2 linked regions of the Homo sapiens genome follow. The protein of the gene in region 2 interacts with the protein of the main gene of each other region in a pairwise test. Each region holds a gene or a part of one and is shown on either strand. Other genes may lie near its edges.

Region 1 (11,431 bases), on a different chromosome or scaffold from region 2:
AAAAATTGATAAATTGGACTTTGTCAAGATTAAAAAAACTTTTTCACTGCAAAGACCCTGTTAAGAGGATGCAAAGACAAGCTAAGGACTAGGGTAAAATATTTGCTAACCACATATCTGACAGAAGCCTCATATCTAGAAAGTATAAGGAATTCTCAAAACTTAGGGGAAAAAATCCAATTAGAAAATAGCAAAAAACATTTCACCGACAAGGATATAGTAATGTCAAATAAGCACATGAAAAGATGTTCAACACCATTAGACATTAAGGCATGCAAATTATTATTATTATTATTAGAGAAGGGTCTCACTTTGTCACCCAGGCTAGAGTACAGTCATAGCTCACTGCAGCCCTGAATTCCTGGGCTCAAGCAATCCTCCTGTCTCAGCCTGCCAATTAGCTAGGACTACAGGCTTGTGCCACTATGCCCTGCTAATTAAAAAAAATTTTTTTGTAGAGACAGGGTCTCACTATGTTGCCCCGGTTGGTCTTGAGCCCCTAACCCCAAGCAATCATCCCTCCTCAGCCTCCCAAAGTGTTGGAATTACAGGCGTGAGCTACCACCCCCTGCCCAGAAATGCAAATTATTAAGACCACAGTGAGATACTACCACATAACTACCAAAATGACTGAAATTAAAAAATAGTGACAACACCAAATGCTGGCAAGGATACAGAAAACTCAGATATCTCATACATTGGTGGTGGGAAGTGTAAAATGGTATAGCCACCCTGGAAAACAGTTTGGCAGTTTCTTAAACACTAAACATGCGACTACAAAATGACCCAGCAATTGCCCTTCTGGTTACTTATCCCAGAGAAGTGAAAACTATGTTCATATGAAAACATGTATATGAATGTTCACAGCAGCTTTATTCATAATAACCCAAACCCAGATGCTGTTCAATGGGTGAATGGCTAAACAAACTGTAGTATATCCACACTGTGGAATACTACTTAGCAATGGAAAGAATCAACAGTTGACACACACAACAACTTGGATGAATCTCAAGGGCATTATGCTGAATGAAGAAAAAGGCAGCCTCAAAAGGCCACATACTGTATGATTTCATTTACATAATATTCTGGGTTTTTTTGAGATGGAATCTTGCTTTGTTGCCCAGGCTGGAGTGCAGTGGTGTGATCTCGGCTCACTGCAACCTCTGCCTCCTGGGTTCAAGCGATTCTTCTGCCTCAGCCTCTCGAGTAGCTGGGACTACAGGCATGCCACCATGCCCAGCTAATTTTTGTTATTTTTGGTAGAGATGGAGTTTTGCCGTTTTGGCCAGGCTGGTCTTGAACTCCTGACCTCAAGTGATCCGCCCCCGCCTTGGCCTCCCAAAGTGCTGGGATTACAGGCATGAGCCACCGCGCCTGGCCTACGTAACATTCTTAAAATGACAAAATTATAGAGATGGAGAACAGATTAGTGGTTGTCAGAGATTAGGGATGGTGTCGGGGAGGGGGTTGGGTGTAACTATAATTAAGTAGCATGAGGATGATTCTTTGTGGTGATGGCATAGTTCTGTATTTTGATAGAATGGTGGTTATATGAAACTACATATGTGATAAAATTGCACAGAGCTACACACACACACACACACACACACACACACACATTGTACCAATGACTTAATATCATAAAGATGCCAATTTTTTCCAAATAGCAGTAGTAGGAAACATTCTTGCTTCTATTACATGAAGGCTGCAGACTTTTTGTGGCCATATTGGACTCTGCATGATTCCATTTGTCTTTTCATTCTGGATCCCCACGGAAGGTGCAGCCACTCTTTGGGGCATGATATTCTCATGGCAAATGGCAGAAGCTCAAGGGAGGTAGGGGAAGCACTAAAGCATACAACATATTTTAAGCTTCTGTTCCAATGTGGTGTTTGCCAAGGCAAGTCAACACAAGCCCAAAACCAATGGAGCAGACTGGTTTACCCGACCTATAGAAAAGCATGGCAAAGATGGAAAGGGTACGAATAATTGTGAATGAACAATGCAATCCACCACATATATTTACTGAGATTTGAGATTTCAAATTAAAATCTCAAGTTTATCATAACAAATGAATTAGAAAATGTCTATGAAGGAGAAAAGAGCTAAGAATACTTGAGATCTGTATAAATAAAAAAGAGAAATAAGTCAGGGTAGGACTTGTATATTTGGAAATCAACACTTGAAATAAAACCACAGGCTAGGCACAGTGGCTCACACCTGTAATCCCAGCACTTTGGGAGGCCAAGGCGGGTGGATCACTTGAGGTCAGGAGTTCAAGACCAGCCTGGCCAACACGGTGAAACCCTGTCTCTACTAAAAAATAATTTTAAAAAAATTAGCTGGGCGTGGTGGCATGCAACTGTAATCCCAGCTACTCAGGAGGCTGAGGCAGGAGAATCACTTGAACCCAGGAGAAGGAGGTTGCAGTGAGCCAAGATCATGTTACTATGCTCTGGCCTGGGCAACAGAGCGAGGCTCTTTCAAAAAGAAAAAAAAAGAGAAAAGAAAGAGAGAAAGAGAAAGAAAAAAAAAAGAAAACCAAAGATTTCAGGCAGTATGATGCTAGCAGAGGGATAGACAAATGGAACAAAATAGAGGACCGAAAACAAACCTATATGTGTATAAAAATCCATTGTAAGAGAGTTCTGGCATTGCAAATGAAAGGAGAAATGAATTTCAGATAGAATGTGGACTTACACATGAAAGACAAAATTGTAACACTTGAAATAAAATATGGGAGAATATTTTTATATCCTTGGGGTCAGAAAGGACTTCTCAAAACACATGAAACAAGGCAAAAGACACCATCAATTAACAAAAGAGGAAACAGGACTAGCTATTAAACATTAAAGATGCTCAGCCATACTGGTAATTGGGGAAATACAAACTACAACTATTATGAGAGATCATTTAGATGAAAACAAGTGCTGGCAAAGATTGTGGGACATGGATGACTTTCTTTTTTTTTTTTCTGAGACGGAGTCCCGCTCTGTCACCCAGGCTGGAGTGCAGTGGCACGATCTCACTGCAAGCTCCACCTCCTGGGTTCACGCCATTCTCCTGCCTCAGCCTCCCGAGTAGCTGGGACTACAGGCGTCCGCCACCATGCCAGGCTAATTTTTTGTATTTTTAGTAGAGATGGGGTTTCACCGTGTTAGCCAGGATGGTCTCGATCTCCTGACTTCGTGATCCACCCGCCTCGACCTCCCAAAGTGCTGGGATTTACAGGCGTGAGCCACCATGCCCGGCCAGATGACTTTCATATACAGGTGTTAGAAATGAAAATTGGTATGACCACTTTAGAAAACAATTTTAGAAAACAACCAGTTTAGACAGTTTGACATTACCTAGTAAATTTGAACGTGCACTTACCTTAAGACCTGATGATTCCACTTCTAGGTATATATCCTAAAAAACATTCTTACACACATGTATCGGAGAAATATTTAAGAATATTCACAGCAACACTGTTTGCAATAGCAAAAACTGGAGCCAATCCAACATCCAAAAGTAGAATGGGTAATTAAATTGTGTTATGTTTTTACAACAAAATACCTATATAACAGAGAAATCAGATAGGTGAATCTCAGAAACATAATGCTGGGCAAAAGCTGCAAGTTGCATGGGAATAATGCAGAATGATTCTATTTTAAAAAAGCTCAAAAACACGCAAAAACAAACCATGTAGTGTTTAGGGACACATATATTTGTGATAACATAATTATTAACACAAAACTTAGGATGGTGGTTTCCTCTGAAAGAGAAGGATATGATTATAGAGCGGCAGATGGAAGGGTTCTTCCTTGAGTGGAAGCTTTAGCAAAGGCAGTTTCAGTGGAGTGGCAGGGATGGAAGCCAGAATGGTGTGTTGAAGGCTGCGTTGAAGCTAACAACATGAAAGACAGCTAATGCAGTCAGCTCATTAAAGACATGTTGTTGAAAATAGGAGCAGATTATATTATCACAAAGCAGTGAAAATGATCATTTGCAGAGCAAACTTCTTTCTCACAAGGCAGAAGGAGGGTGAGCTAGGGTGAATATAAGAGGCTGGCTGTGATTGAGCTGAACGTAGGGGCAAGAACAGAGCTGCAGCCTGGGAGCCCTTCTCATAAAGAGGGAGATTTAGGAGTCTTCTTCGTTGGTCGCCCAAAGACTGTCTGCCCACTTGGAGATAAGCAAGCAAGATCTCCAAGCAGCTCAGCCACTGCCTGCTTTGGCTCTCATGAGACCTCCTGCCAGGAATCCCCATTAATCAAAGTCTGGGAACAAAAGCAGACCAGTCAGTTCCCAGGAGCGCTCACATGTCTTGCAGGCTGGCTTGGGCTTTCTGTTTCTTTCGGGGTCATTGCTCTGACTACCCACAAATATAACTTAAAATCTCATCTCAATGTGACTTTCTGGTGATGTTTTAAAAGCCTATCAGGGAAACTGAGCATTTGCATCTTTGGAAGTTTATTCGAGGGACTAGCTAGGAAAACTCAATGTGGAAAAGTACAAGAGAGAAATGATCACATTGAAAGGTCATGTGGCTGGGCGCGGTGGCTCACACCTGTAATCCCAGCACTTTGGGAGGCTGAGGCAGGTGGATCACAAGGTCAGCAGTTCGAGATCAGCCTGACCAACATGGTGAAACTCCGTCTCTACTAAAAATACAAAAAAATTAGCTGGGCGTGGTGGCAGGCGCCTGTAATCCCAGCTACTTGGGAGGCTGAGGCAGGAGAATTGCTTGAAACCGGAAGGTGGAGGTTGCAGTGAGCCGAGATTGCACCACTGCACTCTAGCCTGGGCAATAAAAGCAAAACTCCATCTCAAAAAATAAAAAGAAAGGTCATGTGTACAAACTTTGACTTTGAGGGTTATCTAGGAACTCATTAGTAACCTGCCTGGAGAGAAACCTGGAGCTACAAGCCAGCAGAGAAAGGAAATGTGTTCTTCTATCAGCTCCAGGTGTAGAGCAACAGGAATGGGGCACAAATCTGAAGAAGGGCTGGGCGCGGTGGCTCACACCTGTAATCCCAACACTTTGGGAGGCTGAGGCCGGAGGATTACTTGAGCCCAGGAGTTCAAGACCAGCCTTGACCTCCTCTGTGTTAAACATAAAAAAATTAGCTGGGCATGGTGGTGCACACTTGTAATCCCAACTATTCAGGAGGCAGAGGCAGGAGGATTGCTTGAGCCCAGGAGTTCAAGACTGCAGTGGGCTACTGCACTTCAGCCTGGGTGACACAGCAAGGCCCCATCTTAAGGGGGAAAAAAAAGTCTGGAAAAGGCCAAAGGATACTCAGAAGAGAGATTTCACATCCTGTTAGGTAAAACTGCAGCTGTGACTATGGGGTTGGGAAAATTTCAGAAGCAGTAGGAGAAAATCAAGAACTTCCCCTTCCTAGTGTGGAAACAGGCTCTTGGGATCTCTCCTGCCTAATGATCCCTGAAGGAGAGAGGGAAACAAACATCTTAAGGAAAAGGAAGAAATCATCATGTTTCTTTTCTCCTGGAAACCAGGCCTGTTTCAGAGGGAATAAGAAAAGTCGGCTGGGTGCAGTGGCTCATGCCTGTAATCCCAGCACTTTGGGAGGCCGAGGCTGGAGGATCACGAGGTCAGGAGTTCGAGACCAGCCTGACCAATATGGTGAAACCCCATCTCTACTAAAAATACAAAAATTAGCCAGGGATGGTGGCGGGCACCTGTAATCCCAGCTACTCAGGAGGCTGAGGCAGGAGAATCACTTGAACCTGGGAGGCGGAGGTTGCAGTGAGCCTAGATGGTGCCATTGCACTCCAGCCTGGGTGACAGAGTGAGACTTCGTCTCAAAAAAAAATTTTAAGCAAGAAAGAAAAAAAAATCAGATTCGTGATAAGCTTGTCCCAAAACCTCAGGTAAGATTGATAGTCCATTTTAGGGTGCTGCTTGCCTCCTCTTCCATCTCTCCGCCTTTGGAGAGCAGATACCTGTCCATGCTTCTTCAAAGGGTGGAATGAGATCCCATCCATCTTACATGTATTCAACAGTAGCTTATTGAATGCTTCCTGTGTTCAGGGAGCTCTTCTAGGTATTGAAGAAGTGGCTGTGAATGAAAATAGACAAAACCAGACTGAGATAATGGTATGTAAAGTGTGATATGAATATGGGGGTCAGGCTCGCTCAATGCTTTTGCCATTTCCATATGGGATGATTCCAACAAGATACTTATAGTCAAGCTGTTAGAAATAAAGGCTTCCTTTCCCCTCTCCAGCTACCCCAATAAATCTGGGTCATTCATCATTGTTGTTCAGTTTGTACTGAGCAGCCCCAGTTAAGTGAGCTATGGTTATATTGAAATATCCACTTGGCCACGAATTGAGTGAAGGTGGGAGGTTCCTCCTGCTAATTCTCCTCCCCTCCCAATACACTTCCTGGCAACCCCCACGCGGAAAACCTCACCCTACTATAGGCCCCCTTCCTCCCACTCTTCAGAAGGCGGTGGCCCCACCCAGGAGAGGGCTGCAGATCGGGGCCAGCCCCAGGGCCTCCGCGGTGCCACCTCTCTCTCGCGAGGGTCCCTGCCGTGCCCCGGCTCGCCGCTGGGAGGCGCTGCGGCACCGGCGTAGGAGCCGCCGGCAGGGGTGGGGCGGGGCCGGCGGGACGGGGCAGAGGGCCCTGCGGCGGCGGACGCGGCGGGCTCGGCCACAGGTAACCCGCAGGAGCCGAGAGCGCTGCCTGGCGCGCGGGCGGCTGGAGGCACGGCGCTGGGCGGCGCCGAGGCCCTGGGGCCGCCGGAGCCAGCGGGAGCCAGTCCCCGTCTTCGCCCCTCGCCCCCCACCGTGTCGCCGGCCTTGGTCCCTGCGGCGCGGACGTCCGGCGCGGGAGAGAAAGGTACCAGGCGACCTCGCCGGCTCCCTGGGACCCCCGCTTACACCGGGGTGGGCGCCTCAGGTCGGGGAGGACGCTGTCGGGGGAAGGGGGCGCTGCTCCCTCGGCACCCCAGGATCGCCGACTGCCCGCGGAGGAGACCCGGACACCGCGCCTCGCCCCCTGGCCTGCGGCCTCCGAAAACGCCCGGCGCGAGGGGGTCCCCCCGGGGCGCCTCCCTCTTCGCCTGGCATCAGTTGCCTCCCTGGAATATGGAACTTCGGGCGAGGGAGGTGGAGAACTTTCTTCTGGGGCTCGTCCCTCGTTCTCCTGCTCGCTTGCAGTTTGAAGGAAGGGCGGTGGGGGCGGGGGTCCGAGTACCCCGCGGTCTGCGGCGCGTAGGAGGGTAGGTCCCTGGCCTGCGGCCGCCTCCGAATGACCCCGTCCCTCCCCGCCCTGGACGACAGCACTAGGGTGCAGTCGCAGGAGAGGGGCCGATACCCCTCAGGAGCCCCATCGGCGAAGCCTCAGCAAGTGGCATCTCCCGGGGTCCAGAGAGTCGGCGTGCTGTCTGGTTTGGGTCCAGACATCAGCTCACCCAAGCTTATCTTGGGCTTTTAAGTGTGTTGCTTCCGGTAGATCTCGGGGACTGGAGGGGAAGTGCAGCATTATTTGTGACCCAAGAGGGACTTGAATGTCTCAAAGCTGGTCAAGAATGTTTCCCCCGCGAGGTAGCATGAGATGGGTCACGTGGTAGTAAAGAGCCACTTCGGGCCCGTGAGATGGAGTTCTGACTCCACCACTTGTTAGGTGTGTGACTTTGGAAAACCCACTTCTTTAAACCTTAGTTTTTAGAACTCTAAACTGCAGGTATTGTACATAACCTCGTAGTATTGTGTTCATGCAGTGAAGTGATGGGAATGAAATGCTTGGCATTGTACTCTTGTGTGTTAGACACCTTTTGCGAACCTGTTGGATGTTGAATTCATTCATGCTTAGGTTCTGTTAGGCCAGTGTAAGTGGAAAGAACTTGGGCAATGAAGACAAACACACCTGGGTCCAAGGTGGTCCCATCCATGGTATACTGATTGGGGGTTTCTCATCCCCAAAACACCAATAGCAGCCTTGGCGGGGTTTTTGTTGTTGTTGTTTTGAGACAGAGTTTCGCTCTGTTGCCCAGGCTGTAAGCTTTGACCTCCTTAGCTCAACCGATCTTCCCACCTCAGCCTGGGACCACCACACCTGGCTAATTTTGAATTTTTTTATTTTACTAGAGACAGAGTCTCACTGTGTTGCCTAAGCTGGTCTCGAACTCCTCCTGTCTCAGCCTCCCAAAGTGTTGGGATTACAGGTGTGAGCCACTGTACTGGTCTGCAGCCTTGTTCTTGAGTGTAGTAGGTGTGTCTATACCGATACATGTTACACTTTGTCATCTTTAGTATTTGTTTAGCATATGGTAACAAAAAATTTTTTAAAAATTAGGGATACAAATTAAAATTGGGGAGTATTTTCTGCCCTCTAGGTCATACTGGACATGGGGGAAGGGTAGAAGAGGGATGAAGAGGAATTAAAGAGACCAGAAAACAACTAGTCGCAGTGTTGGGAGGTATAAACCAATGGTAATTTTTAAAAATGTGAATTTATTAACTCCTTGTTTTTTCATGGTGGCACCAAAAATTAATCTTAGTCTCCCACTTAAACTCATCAGCCTCCCCAAAGCCTTTCCAGATAAGCATATGCTCCATGTAAAAGCAGACTGCCTGCGATCCAACTCAGCTTAGAGACAAGGCACACTTCCAACTCCCAAGGCCTCCTTCTTGTATAGAGATGCTGGTGCTGCCACTGTGAAATACATCATACACTCAGACAGTATAAACCTTAGAGTGCAATGTAAAGAATAACAATAGATCACACCCAAGTACGAGTCACCCGGCTGAAGAACTAGAACATCGCCAGGCCCCTGGAGCCCCTGAGTACCCCTCTCCATTGCCTTCCACTCACTTCTCGCCTCCCACCCAAGGAACCACTATTCTGGATGTTGTGTTAACTTTTTCCCTTGCTTATATGAAAAACCCTGAGGAAAGGAAGTTTCCCAACAAGCATTTCCACAATAACCTGGAGCATTCTTTATTTTTCTTTTTTTCTCAAGGAGCATTGTTATTGAACTTAAAAGCAGGCTATTGAGGGTAAGATACAAACCACAAAAAAGCCGAAAGTCTCAAAGTCGGGGGATCTTTTAGTCTCTGTCTTCTTCCAAGTTTCTCCTGTCTCCCTGGCACGGATCCCGAAGGTGTGTTCTGTCTGTGTAGGGGAGACCCAGTCTCTTCCAACATAGATTGATGGCTGTGATTTTAAAAGCTTTGCTTGAGTCCCTAAGAAGTGGGAAAACAGTAATTTGGGTGCGTGCGTTTTAGAAGTTTTTTTAAAAATGCAAATTATCCAGAAGGCATTGTGTGGGATTTGAAGGATTAAGCTAAGAGTGACCTTTAAAAATGGTTTTAACAACCCAAATTCCTCTTCCTGGTTGATATGTTTGTGTTATTGTCTTTGTTTTATTTCTTCAAGGTCACATGGCTTTCCTTGGTGAATCTTACACTGTTTTGTTACTTCTTGGTTAAGGCAAAGATTCTGAAACTTGGTTTCATGGAGCCCTTAGTGTCTGAGTTAATTTTTTCACAATTCCCTTAGGCTTCAGTAGTTAGTAATTTTTTCACAATTCCCTTAGGTTTCAGTAGTTAGTAGTTAGGTTCAAACAACTGAGTATTTACTTAGAAGTTGTTTGAAAAAATAATATACATAAACTGAGAGAAAAAATATTTTACATCCTTTAAAGTCATAATTACTAACCGTATGTGTGTGCCTATACTACTTTTCAAACCTTGGGATCGTGTTGGACACTGCCACTCTCATTTCCTGTTTCACATTAATATTTCCGCAGCATTTGGCTTTTATCACAGCAGCCACAGAAAACCCAGCTTTGCAAAGATGTATTGTCTTGGATAGGAATGTAACATGATCTACTGTTGAAACTGCAAACTACCTCCAGTTAATAGGTTCAGCAGTGTCCAGACATGTTTGGTATACTAGTTTCCATTGAAATTTTCAGATTTTCTACATTGCCCATTTTAATTTGCTATAGTTGCAAAACACCCAGTCAGGGGGTCCAAAATAGTAAACTTTGAAAACATTATGCTAGGTGAAATAAGTTAGTCACAGAAGGGACAATATTGTATGATTCTGTTTATATTAGGTACCTAGAGTAGTCATACACATGGAGACAGAAAGTAGAATGGTAGTTACCAGGGGTAGGGGGAGGACAGAATAGGGAATTCATGTACTATTTTTGCAACTTCTATGTAAGACTAATATTATTTCAAAATAAAGTTTTTAAACGTTTTTTAAAAACAAATTCTGTTGATGGTGCCCCACTGCTGGACTGTACCAAGGCACTGAGGTTAGGGACAGCAGCAGAGAAAAGCTTAGGGGTGACATTATCTCTATTTCCCAGCTCTTCCTCATCCCGTCAAGGGGGAAGAGATGGAAGAAATAGCTATGTTCTCTCTCTTTTATAGGGAAGTGTCTGCATTATTTACTGGTGGGTTCCTTTATAAACCTGAGGATCAGCTATTAAATTTGTCACTAAAATAAGAATTTTTAACCTGGGGTTCAGTGGTGGGCTACAAATACTCTAAGATCTCCCAAAATTATGTATAAGTATTTAAGTGAATGCTCTTATGTATGTTTGAGGGGGAAGAAGTTCCATAGCTTTCATCAGATTCTCAAATGGTTTCCTAAGTCAAAAAAGGTTAGTAAGCGCTATAAGGAAATATTTACAGATTCCTACCTACCCCCACCCCATAAAAGGCCCCTTTATTTGGATGTCTTATCCCATTTCAGTTCTCTGACATATCTTTCCCCCACCAGTTACAAGAGGCTTTCTTTCTGCTCAGACCCCAGATAAGCCCGACCAGTTCTTTTTCCTCAGAGCCCCCAGCTATTCATCTGGATCCTGAAAACTCCAGGACCAATTCCTCAAGAGCCAAAGGAAGTCCCAGAATGAACATCTTGGACTTCTGAATAGGGCAGATGTGGAACTGAAGTCTCACAACTGCCACATCTCTCTGTGCCCTCCTTAGGTCTAGAAAAATATGAAGTAAATAATAATATATTAGGTACACAGCTATGGAAAAACTCATGAAGATGGTACTGAATGACTGAAGTCCAGTACATTCTGCTTTGGGGGAGGCAAATTTAATTTTAAGAGTGTCTTCTGGTTTACACTTTATGTTCCAAATGTATTCTAAATATAGCATACAATACGTCCTACCTTGTTTCATATCCAGTGATACAGATGAGCTATAGAATTTACACAGTGTTAGAAAAGATGTTAAATATCAGAATTTACTTAATAAGTAGGTCTCTACTCATTCAGACTGGTTTCATTTTATTTTATTTTATTTTTGAGGCAAGGTCTCGCTGTCACCCAGGCTAGAGTGCAGTGGTGCAATTTCAACTCACTGCAACCTCTGCCTCCTGGGCTCAAAGCCATCCTCTCACCTCAGCCTCCTAAGTAGCTGGGACTACAGGCACATAACACCA
Region 2 (11,793 bases):
GGAATTTTTCTTCTTCCAGTTCCTCTCAGCAATCGGCGTGGTCTCTCTGTCTCTCTCAAGTCAGCAGGGGCTCATCTGAACCTCCTCTCTGGAAAGAAAAGGAAGGGGGGAGGTGGGGAGAGAGAAAAGGGTATTGATCTAATCAAAACCAGATCTACCCAACATCAAAGCAAGAAAGTAAACAGGCTTTTCAACTCCTCAAATTCAAATCAAGCAACCCAGCTATCTGCGAGGTGCTCATCTAAAGTATCAGGCGCTGCTTTTCAAAAGCGAAATCTGAGCTCCCTGCACACTTTTCGGGGTTGGGGGTGGGAGGGAGCTGTTGGGAAAGAGGCGGGGAAGGTGAGAGGAAGGCAAGAGCTGGGGACGGCAGGGGGACACTGGAGGTGTAAGACACAACCTTCCAAAAACCCACTCGGCCAGGGCGCACGCAGGGCAGCTCAGCCCGCGCCTCGCCTTCCCTCCCTTCCCCTCCCCCGATACCATCAACTCCAAAAAGGCGCACTCCCAGCCGCTAGGCTGTGTGCAGGTGAAACCAATTTCGGTATATTTCCCCACTCGGCCCTGCACAGATAACTCGAGCTCCAAACGTGCCCTTCCCCGGCATCTGGTTCCCATTCTCCCCACCCACCCCCTCCCTCTGCGCTCCCTCTTCCCACTCCTTAAAAATTCAGAAGATCCTGGCCCAAGAGAAGCCCGCCCAGCATAGGCGGATTGGGCTCCCGGACTCCCAGATTCAGCACGCAAACACCCCCTCCCCAACTCAGATTTGAGTGTTCGCTACGCGCCCCCTACCCCCACCAAGAATCCAGCTCAGTCAACACCTCTGTCTTCCCTGACCTCCCCCCAAACCAGAAACCAACTCACTCAGGGGAGACTTTCATCTTCAAACTTTGAGAGAGAGCTGAGAAGCCTCGGAACCGTCGCCCCCGTGCCCCCAACCCACCTCCCGGATCCGCGAAACCTACAAAACTGGATCACCAGCCGTCTCACGCCACTACTGCCTGTGCCAAGAATCCCAAACTCTACTGATTTCAAGCCTGTCTTTTTTCCAAAGAAAAAAGTCTTATCTAACCAATAAACAAGCTGCTTTCCCTAGCACGGAAAAGATCAAACTAAGAAGGGTAGGGGCTGAACGGGGTGCAACCCCGGGCGAGAAGCCAGGGACCCCGGATCTGGGATGGGTGCACGCTGAACCCGACCAGAGCCTCGAGCCGCGGGGCTGGGCGGCGCGGCCCACGGAGAAGTGGGGCTGCCGTTGGCACCGCGCTACCCGGGCGGTGGGAGGTGGAGCGGCCCCGTTACCTGGAAGACGAAGGCCGCCGAAGCCAGGCTCTCATGTCCTCCGAGCCCCTCCGGCCCGGTCCCCCGGCCCAAATGCAACTGAACGCCTCCAGAGCCCTGGCGGGCACACCTCGAGGCCGGAACCCCGGGACACGCCAGCAGCGCCCCGAGCCCGGGCGGGGGGTCGGTCCCCGGCGCCGCCGTTTGCAGAGGCGCCCGCAGAAAAAGCACAGAAAGCAGCAGCCTAGTCCAGAAATGGCGACGCGCGGAGTCTCTGCCTCTCCGCAAAAGGGGCCGGGGCGGCCACGGGCGAGGGGCCCGGGCCGGGAGGAGGGACGCGAGGGACACGGGCGCCCCGGACTTGGGCCGGTCCTGCGCGCAGACTGAGCCTCCGCCAGCGCTGTGGGCCCCTTAGCGCGGACCCGCGGCAGGGAGGGGAAAAGGGGAGGGGGAAGAGAAGTAGGAGGAGAGGATGGGGCGGAGGAGAGGCGGGGGGCGGGGGAGGGCAAGCGGGGGGCGCCGCTACCCTTTCATCCCACCTCCCAAAGGCACTCCCGCGCGCACTCACACGCCGACTCACATCCATAACCGCGACAGCGACGCGACCCCCGGGGGGTATCTGCCCCCTCTCCGCCCCCGCCACTGCCGCCACTCGGATAAGTCTCCTCTCTGGGCCCCCCGCCAACCCGGTCACCGCGCTGGGGAGGGGGCTCCGGCGCAGGGCGCGCAAGGCTGCCCGGCCAAGCCCCCCGGAACGCTGGGCGCCGGGTCCGCCGCTCCCCTCCGCGCCGGCCCCTAGCGCGCCCCGAAATAGCCGGCCTGCCAACTTCAAAGGGCCGCCCCGCACATCAAAGCGCGCGGTCCGCCCGGCCGCCTCGGCCTCGGCACTCACCATTGATCCCCGCGCGCGCTCGGCGGCGAGACCTCGCAGGCGCCCCTGGCAGGGGCCCGGCCCCGGCCCCCGGCTCGGCTCGCGGCGGCAGCCCCGGGCCCCCCCGGGCCGGCCGCGGCGTCGGGGAACATGGGGAGTCGTGCGGCGGGGGAGGGGGTGCGGGAAACAACAATCCCGGGTTCAGAGCGAAAGCCACCGGCCGGGGAGGGGGAACGGCGCGCCCCGCCGCCCCTTTTATGCAAAAGATCCGAGCGGGCCTCCGCCCCCGCCCGGCCCGGCTTTCAACGCAGGTCCTGTTTCCAGCAGTCACTCGGCGCACCAAATGTCCTCCGGGCGCTTCCAACAAAAACTGCGCTGTGGATTTAACTGTGCACTTCAAAGGCGCGAGCCGAGCGCACGGTCCTGAAAGGGAGGTACGCGCCGGCCGCGCCCCGGGCCGCCCCCCGCAGCCCCGCCACCGCTCCGCAGGGCCGCCCCGCCCGCGCCCCCCTCCAGGCCCGGCCTCCGCCTGGCCGGGCCCCCTCCCGCCCCCCGCGCCCACGCCGCGGCTCGGCGCGACCTCGCCCCCTGTAAGAGGGGGGCTTTCTTTGAAGCGGCTCCGCTGGGGCCGAGCTTCCACCCCCACCTTTTACAGCAGGGCCTTCGGCGGGCGCCTCGGCCGCCGGGCGGCCCCGAAATCCATCGCTCTGAGGGGTTATTTTTATTTCCCGGCTCTCGGGCTGTTACTGAGTTGCCAGGACCTTATCAAAGCGCAGCCGGCTCCAGCCGACTCCCCCGGGCCAGGCTCGCGGAGCCAGTGATCCCGCCGCGCCAATCACAGCCGCGCTCGGCCGGCCCGCGCCGCCCGCCTTAAAGGGACAGCGCCCCGCGCCCGCCCCGCCCCGCCCCGGCCCGCCCCCGCCGCACGCTCCGCTCCCGCGTTAACCCTTCCCCGGCCTCTCCTCCGCCCCCTGCCAGCCCCCCGCGGCCCCGAGGGCATTCTCAGCCCGAGTTCTGATTTCTTCTTTTAAGTTCTCCGGCCTCTTTGCTCCCGCCTCCTCCCCCTGCCTGCCCTCGCTCTCCCCGGCTCTGGAATGCAACAGTTTCTGGTAGCATTATGGCCATCGCAAGAACTGCAAGCAAGCAGATTTTTTTTTTTCTATCATCAAACGCTTTTCTACCTCTATTCAAGTTTCCCTGGGAATTTGGGCTTGGAGGACTTTATAAAGGGAGTTCCGGCCCTGGGGTTGGCTGGCCCGCTGTCATAGGGCGGACTCGGGCCCAGCCGCTGGAGGCGTGTGCATGCCTGTGCGCGCTTGTGCACGTGCATCTGAGTTCGGGTAAATATAGGACTGCAGTTGGTGGATGAATTGCGTTTGTGCATGTGTGAAAGTGGGGTGTGAATCCGCCAGTATAGGCCTGAGTGCTAACACCAGTTAGGAGGCATACCTCAGTGCCCTGAAGACCTAGGTCCAGCTTCCTAACCTGCTGGCCATAAGACCCTCGTAGCGGCACACATTGGCCATCTCTCCCAAACAACTGCATACCCGTTACTCTTCCAAAGTCCCCTCTTCTGCCATATGTTACATATTAAACCGATAGGAATATCTTTTTTCCCACTCCAAACGACAAGGCATGCATGCCGTTTTAATGTATCGAAAACTCCTCACCCCATTGTCACCTTTGAATTTCTCCCACATTTGCCCAAAAACGTTTATAAGGCACACACAACCTTCTCTTCTCCGTTAAAATGAGAAAATATGTCACAAACCCAGAGCATTGTGTATTTATTCTGCTGCTGCTATAGAATGATTCCTTATGTTATGAGCGAATAATTAACTTTTCTTCCTTTTAAAAAACAAAGGGCCGGGGACGGTGGCTCATGCCTGTAATCCCAGCATTTTGGGAGGCCCATGCTGGAGGATCATCTGAGGTCAGGAGTTCGAGACCAGCCTGCCTAATATGGCGAAACCCCGTCTCTACTAAAAATACAAAAATCAGCCGGGTGTGGTGGCACGTGCCTGTAGTCCCAGCTACTCGGGAGGCTGAGGCAGGAGAATCGCTTGAACCTAGGAGACGGGGGTGGGGGGGTTGCAGTGAGCCAAGATGGCACCACTGCACGCCAGGCTGGGTGACAAAGCGAGACTCCCTCAAAAAAAAAAAAAAAAAACACACACACACACACACATAAAGGTGTGAACCAAAGAGATCCAAGAAGTGAAAGGCAGAGTCCTGGCCTCAGAGCTGTGCAAGGCTCTTACTCTCCAACTTAATGGATGACGAGCCCTTTTAAATGCGAGATGGCCTGTCATTAGGCCTTCAGAACTTTAAAACATGCAAGAATTGTGGCTCTATCTAGGTATCCATAGAAAAAGAGAAGGAAGAGGCTGGGTGTGGTGGCTCACCCGTGTAATCCCAGCACTTCGGGAGGCCAAGGCAGGCGGATCACCTGAGGTCAGGCATTCGAGACCAGCCTGGCCAACATAGTGAAACCCTGTCCCTACTAAAACTACAAATATTAGCCAGGCGTGGTGGGGGGCGCCTGTAGTCCCAGCTACTCGGGAGGCTGAGGCAGGAGAATCATTTAAACACAGGAGGTTAAGGTTGCAGTGAGCCTGGGCGACAGAGCAAGACTCCATCTCAAAAAAAAAAAAGAAAAGAAAAAAAGAGGAGGAAGATCCACCACCCATGATCTGCTGGAAAGGGGCAGGTGGCAGGACTGTGCGCCACCTGCCCTCAGCCTAAGGGACTGTGACAAGGGACTAGAAAGCTCTTAGACTTTCTAGTCTAAGACTCTGGACTCTGGCTCGTGGGTGCCATGACAGGTGGCCGCTCCTCCCCAAAACCTGCCTTTCGGTGCCCATGGTCTGCAGCTCCAGGCTCTCGACCCCAGGCAGCCAGGTTGGCATAAAGACAGCAGTACCAGCCCTGAAATGTGGCCCTGAAGCCAGCCAGGAAGGCCAGGGAAAGAGTGTGGCCCGATGACTCATCTTTGCCTTAGGACAACTGCTGGTGTGAGGAAACCAGTGGGCTCTAAAAGCCCCGGCCTGCTGGTATTCTGGGGGGTCAGTGGCCCATGGACCCTCTTAGCCACCAGCTCTGAGCTGGCCCAGGGCCAAGAACACAGCCACCACCTTTGGCCACCCCAGGAGTGCCAAGAGTAAAACTGTCACTGTGGTTCCAGGGAGTCTTTGGGCCACAGAGGGTGTTATTACTGGAACAGAAATGTAGACAGAGGGGTATGGATTGCCATAAAAGTGTCTACCATATAAACAACAGTAAAGTCACACACACACACACACACACACACACACACACACACACACACACAATGTGGGGGGTGGGGGAGAGAGAAAAATCAAAACATCTAAAATCAAAATAAACAATGTTCAGAAAAAAGAGGTTTTCAAAAAGGAAGTGGAAACTTGGTCTTTGTGGGTGGTTTTCCTCTCCTCCCAGTTGTCCCCACCGACCCGTCACTGCCTCCCCCAACCAGCCCTAATCACTGTAGGCTCAACTTTAACCAAAGGACTACCTCATTATCCCATGGCTGCGACTGTAGCAAGAGGGGACTGGGACTGGGACTGGGGACCCAGGAGCAAGGCCCGGTTTGGTTTGGATCTTCTCGGTCAATAATAACTGCTCTGAGGGCCGGGGTGCAGTGGCTCATGCCTGTAATCCCAGCACTTTGGGAGGCCAAGGCAGGTGGATCACCTGAGGTTAGGAGTTCGAGACCAGCCTGACCGACATGGAGAAACTCCTTCTCTACTAAAAATACAAAATTAGTCAGGCATGGTGGCGCATACCTGTAATCCCAGCTACTTGAGAGGCGGAGGCAGGAGAATCGCTTGAACCCAGGAGACGGAGGTTGTGGTGAGCCGAGATCGTGCCATTGCACTCCAGCCTGGGCAACAAGAGCAAACTCCGTCTCAAAAAATAAATAAATAAAAAATAACTCCTCTGAGAGCATGGTTTCCAGAACAGGTGCTCGGGTCACTTTAGGGCAGTGACTCCCTCCACCATCACCCCTGGCCTGTCCCCTTTCCTACAGCTTTATATCTGGTGGGACACTTCCCTCCCAGCAGGAGGCTGGGCCAAGTACTGGAAAGCCCTCTCTCTAGCCTCTGGGTCTCTGACTACTTGTTGATAATATTTCTAGAGGAGAATCCAAAGTCCTGTGCTTATAGCAGCCCGTTTCTCAAGATAGCACGTTTTCCATTTTCCCCTTGTCCCTGGCAGCAGCGCTATCATGTGACTTGTTGTAATCCTGCACGGTTGCCTGGAAACTGGAAAGCAAGGTGATGGATTTCTGCACATGCTCACTCGCCCCCCCGCTCCACCTTTAAAGAAAAACCCTACGGAGGATAAACAGTCCACTTTGCCTAAGTGCAGACAAGTTTAATAAAGCAGAGAGTGATTCTTTGCTGGAATTATATACTGGGCTGAAATCCTAGAATCCCAGAAAACAAGGACTAAGGGCTCCCTGGGAGGCATCTGGCCAGATCTCTGACCTTTAGTCAGCCCCACAAAAACCACTGTGGAGGGGAAGTCACACCAGCTGGGACTTCAGAGGAGCTGAGACCCAGGACACTGCTCTCTCAGATTCAGTAACTTTGTCTTTTATTCCTTTGGAAAAGTGCTGCCTTAGACAATGTACCTTTGTTTGGGGAGGAAGGTGAAGAGAGACACAGGTAACCTTTCCTAAGACTGGAGGTTACCTAACCACACGGAGTTTCCATTTGTTCACCTGTAGACTGGAGGAAACCTCCCCTGCAAAGGCTGTTGTGAGCCTGAGCAATACGATAAATGCCTGGCACAGAGCTGGACACACAATAGAACATGGCGGTTATTTTCACAGAGTAAGTCTGTTCCCTCAATAGCCTGTTACCTATTCTGGGAAGAAACTCCCTATCTCCAAAGCAAAGATACCGTCCATTGGGAGTGACGATCTGGGGAAGAATGACCCCAGGAGGCTGACCATAGGGGGCCTAAAGGAGATAAAGGAGGCTGTGCCCTGCTACCATCTTTCAAGGATAGTCCTATGCAGAAAGAAATAAGCCCAGGGGCCATTCAAGAGTTATCTAGTCCAACCCTTCATTTAAGAAACCAGACAAATTGGCTGGGTGTGGTGGCTCACACCTGTAATGCCAGCACTTTGGGAGGCTGAGGTGGGCAGATCACCTGAGGTTAGGAGTTCGAGACCAGCCTGTCCAACATGGTGAAACCCTGTCTCTACTAAAATTACAAAAATTAGCTGAGCATGGTGATGCATGCCTGTAATCCCAGCTACTCGGGAGGCTGAGGCAGGAGAATCGCCTGAACCCGAGAGGCAGAGGTTGCATTGAGCGGAGACTGCGCCATTGCACTCCAGCCTGGGCAACAAGAGCGAAACTCTGTCTCCAAAAAAGAAAGAAAGAAAGAAAGAAATCAGACAAATTAAGCAAAGAGAAAGTGAGATTTCCCCAGGATCACTTTGCCCATATCAGAGATGAGCTGGAACTTCTGAGGGGTCCTGACTCCTGGCCCAGCCTCTTTTTCCTCCACACCATAGTGAGGAGACCCAGGGAGGGGCTGGCTGAGATGGAGGGGGTGAGACCATCTGGAGGTCTTGACTTTTACAACAGGACTAATACATACAATCTGGGATACTTTCCTGAAAGAATCACAACAGGGCTTCTGTCTGAAATCCCTCTAAGGCACGCTTCATCCAGCCCCTACCTGTAGGTAGGTTGCCTTGGCTCTGCCAGCTGGGCTACCCACAGCCTGATCTGGGACAGTTTGACCCACGTCTTTTAGAGTGGCAGCCATTTACATGGGCATCTCCGTGGAGTTGATCCACCTAAGGAGGAATGGACCTACTTCCTCTCCCCTTTGCAGAGGAGGGACTGGGAATGCCAAGGTGGAGATTTTGAAGCCACAAGGGGAAAAGTAAGGTTTCCCTAAGAAATCCCATCTTCAAGGCCAGGTGCAGTGACTCACACCTGTAATCCCAGCGCTTTGGGAGCCCAAGTAGGTGGATCAGCTGATGTCAGGAGTTCAAGACCAGCCTGGCCAACATGGCAAAACCCCATCTCTACTGAAAATACAAAAATTAGCCTGGTGTGGTGGCAGACACCTGTAATCCCAGCTACTCGGGAGGCTGAGGCAGGAGAATCATTTGAACCCAGGAGGCAGAGGTTGCAGTGAGCCGAGATCGTGCCACTGCACTCCAGCCTGGGCGACAGAGTGAGACTCTGCCTCAAAAGAAAAGAAAAGAAATCCCATCTTCAGAAGTGTTGGGGGAATTTATTTGTTGATAAAATATCTTTTTTTAATATGAAATTTAAAACACAGTTAAACAGTAATTTAAAACTTCCTAATTGGACTGACTTTCAAGTGCTTTTATTATGGATTGTAAATAGAGCTGCAAACTGCTGATTTTTTTTCAGCATCTCACCCTTCGTGGTCTTCAAGTTTGGCTTTTAGGAGTTGGCCTGAGCTTGTAACCAGAGGAGAGCACCGATATACCTATATTAAAACAAATCCAGAAAGAGGTTTTGCTTTCTTTTTTCTTTATTATTATTATTTTATTTTATGTATGTATGTATGTATTTATTTATTTTTGTTTTTTGAGATGGAGTCTCGCTGTGTCGCCCAGACTAGAGTGCAGTGGCATGATCTCGATTCACTGCAACCTCCACCTCCCGGGTTCAAGCAATTCTCCTTTCTCAGCCTCCCAAGCAGCTGGGATTACAGGCACCCGCTACCACACCCGGCTAATTTTTTTTTTTTTTTTGTATTTTCAGTAGAGATGGGGTTTCCCCATGTTGGCCCTGTGATTCCCCCATCCTGACCTTGTGATCCGCCTGCCTTGGCCTCCCAAAATGCTGGCATTACAGGCATGAGCCACCGCCCCCGGACCAGAGGTTCTGTTTTCTTAAGTGATCTTCTCCACAGTGAGAGACACCAAAACAAAGGGCGAGGTTGGGGGAGAAAACAGCCCCGAAAGGTCATTTTTAGAAAAGGAACTGGAAAATAGAAAGGAATCCCCCTAAAGTCGTCACGCCAACCTGCGACGCGTGTTCCTAAACCGCCCCCCGTAGACATTTTTCTCACCTTCTGATATCTTATTTTGCTCATTTTAAACAACTTCTGGAAAGCAAAGTTTAGCTGAGCTTGAAATAAGTTGCCTTATTCACCTCTGGGCACAGTGGCTCATGCCTGTAATCCCAGTACTTTGGGAGGCCGAGGCGGGTGGATCACGAGGTCAGATAGAGCCCATCCTGGCTAATATGGTGAAACCCCGTCTCTACTAAAAAAAATACAAAAAGTTAGCCGGGCGTGGTGGCACGCGCCTGTAATCCCAGCTACTTGGAAGGGTGAGCAGGAGAATAGTTTGAACTCGGGAGGTGGAGGTTGCAGTGAGCCGAGATGGCGTCACTGCACTCCAGCCTGGGGGACAGAGCAAGACTCTGTCTCAAAAAAAAAAAAAAAGAAACCTGGGCCACATCTAGACTCCGCCTTCTCCCTCAAACGCCTCCATTCATTCACCCAGCCCTGTTGATTCTGCCTCTAAAAAAATCTCCCACCACCACCTCCTGCTCTGCAAATCCACAACTGCTATCAGGGCCCTTGCCAGGGACAGCCAAATGTTCTAATGATGCTTCACACCTACAGTTTATAGCCCTAACCCCTGACCCCCCTCACGCAGTGCTGCAATGGTAAACGCTGTGCAGTGCAGAGCCACCCATGTCATTCTCCTGCTTCAGATCCTCCCCGGCTGCACATAACCTTCAGGATAAGGCCCAGAACCCTATGTGTGGTGCACAGGTAGCCGGCCCAAGCCCAGGCCCTTTTCCAGCTCTATTTCTTTTTCTATCTTTTTTTGTTTGTTTGTTTGAGATGGAGGAGCCTCGCTCTTGTTGCCCAGGCTGGAATGCAGTGGCCCAATCTTGGCTCACTGGAACTTCCGCCTCCCAGGTTGAAGTGATTCTCCTGCCTCAGCCTCCAGAGTAGCTGCGACTACAGGCGCATGCCACCACGTCTGGCTAATTTTCATATTTTTAGTAGAGACGGGGATTCACCATGTTGGCTAGGCTGGTCTTGATCTCCTGACCTCAGGTGATCCACCCACCTCGGCCTCCCAAAGTACAGGAATTACAGGCGTGAGCCACCATGCCTGGCCCTCCAGCTGTATTTCTTGCTGACACCCCCTTGTCCCTACCATATGCATGGTGGATTGCCTCTCCTTTTCCTCCCTGGCCGACTGCCCTCCCTCTGCCACTTCTTCAGTCCTCTCCCACCTCATCCCCCGAGACCGGGCTAGAGCCCATCCTCCTACTTCTGTGGCATCTGGGGCTCACCTCTAGCAAACACTGTGGTTGATCTACTTCTCTGTCCCACCCACTCAACCATGAACTCTCTGAGGACAGGGACCGTGTTTTGTGATACTTGCATCCCTTGAACTAGATTGTGGGAAGGAGGGACCTGGGCGATATTTAATAGCTGGTGAAACCTGTGTACCGGCCAATCAGAACTGATACCAGCCTAGGGTCTGGAACAGGGTCTTGGAAACCCCCTGCCAGAGTCAAGCCAGTAGTCGCTGTGTCACGAGGAGCTGTGGTTGGCATCCTCTAAGTTGGGCCCTAATGATCCCTGCTTCCTAGTTCCACACCCTGCATACTTCCCTCCCCTTGAGCATGGATAGCATTTGACTCTCTCCTAATAAATAGAGTATGGCTGATGTGACAGCACATCCACTCCACATTAGGCTATCGAAAGGCTGCGATTCCTTCCTTAGGTGCTTTCCCTAGAATCTTGAGGCATCCCTGTTGAGGGACCCGTGTGACGAGGGACAAGCCCTGCCACCAACCAAGTGATCTCAGAAGCCGAACGCCACCTAGGCAAGCCTTGACATGATGCAGGTCCAGCTGCTGGCTTGCTGGTAGCCTCATGGAAACCTCAAGGAGGAGGCACCCGGCTAAGCCATGTCCAGATTCTGGACCCACAGATGAAGATGTATCCTCTGGGGAGGGGAGTGGTGAAAACTGACCTGCTGATGAGACTTCGCCCTGTCAGTTAACATTGCTAATGGTAAGAACCCAGTTGCAAGACATACAGGTTGTGAATCTTTTCTATACTTTATTTTTTTTATGTTTTCTTTTTCTGAGACAGAGTCTCGCTCTGTTGCCCAGGCTGGAGTGCAATGACGTGATCTCAGCTCAGTGCAACCTCTGTACCCAGGTTAAGGTGAATCTCCTGCCTCAGCCTCCCGAGTAGCTGGGACTACAGGTGTGCACCACCATGCCTGGCTGATTTTTGTAGTTCTAGTGGACACGGGGGTTACACCGTGTTGGCCAGGTTGGTCTCAAACTCCTGACCTTGAGTGATCGGCCAGCCTCAGCCTCCCAAAGTGCTGGGATTACAGGCGTGAGGCACCATACCCGGCCCTTTTCTGTACTTTATGAAATGACAGCACGTTGATGGTCAATGACGACAAGCATAAGCTATTGGCAATAATTATCACATATTTGGGCCAAGCCCAGTGGCTCGCGCCTATAATCCCAGCACTTTGAGAGGCCAAGGCAGGTGGATCACCTGAGGTCAGAAGTTCGAAACCAGCCTGGCCAACATGGCAAAACCCCATCTGTGCTAAAAAT

The links.
Region 1: the proteins of AXIN2 (region 2) and ANKRD6 interact in a two-hybrid assay, tested with the Homo sapiens proteins (one study listed by BioGRID).

The regions. Positions count from the first base shown.
Region 1 is NC_000006.12:89,426,520-89,437,950, forward strand, and holds the start of ANKRD6 (ankyrin repeat domain-containing protein 6), read left to right. Parts: upstream 1-6,632; 5' UTR 6,633-6,856; intron 6,857-6,897; exon of another isoform or gene 6,898-11,431. UniProt on the Homo sapiens protein: Recruits CKI-epsilon to the beta-catenin degradation complex that consists of AXN1 or AXN2 and GSK3-beta and allows efficient phosphorylation of beta-catenin, thereby inhibiting beta-catenin/Tcf signals.
Region 2 is NC_000017.11:65,558,649-65,570,441, forward strand, and holds the start of AXIN2 (axin-2), read right to left. Parts: upstream 3,001-11,793; 5' UTR 2,802-3,000; intron 2,530-2,801; exon of another isoform or gene 2,177-2,529; intron 2,092-2,176; exon of another isoform or gene 1,865-2,091; intron 1,670-1,864; exon of another isoform or gene 868-1,669; intron 89-867; 5' UTR 1-88. UniProt on the Homo sapiens protein: Inhibitor of the Wnt signaling pathway. Down-regulates beta-catenin. Probably facilitate the phosphorylation of beta-catenin and APC by GSK3B.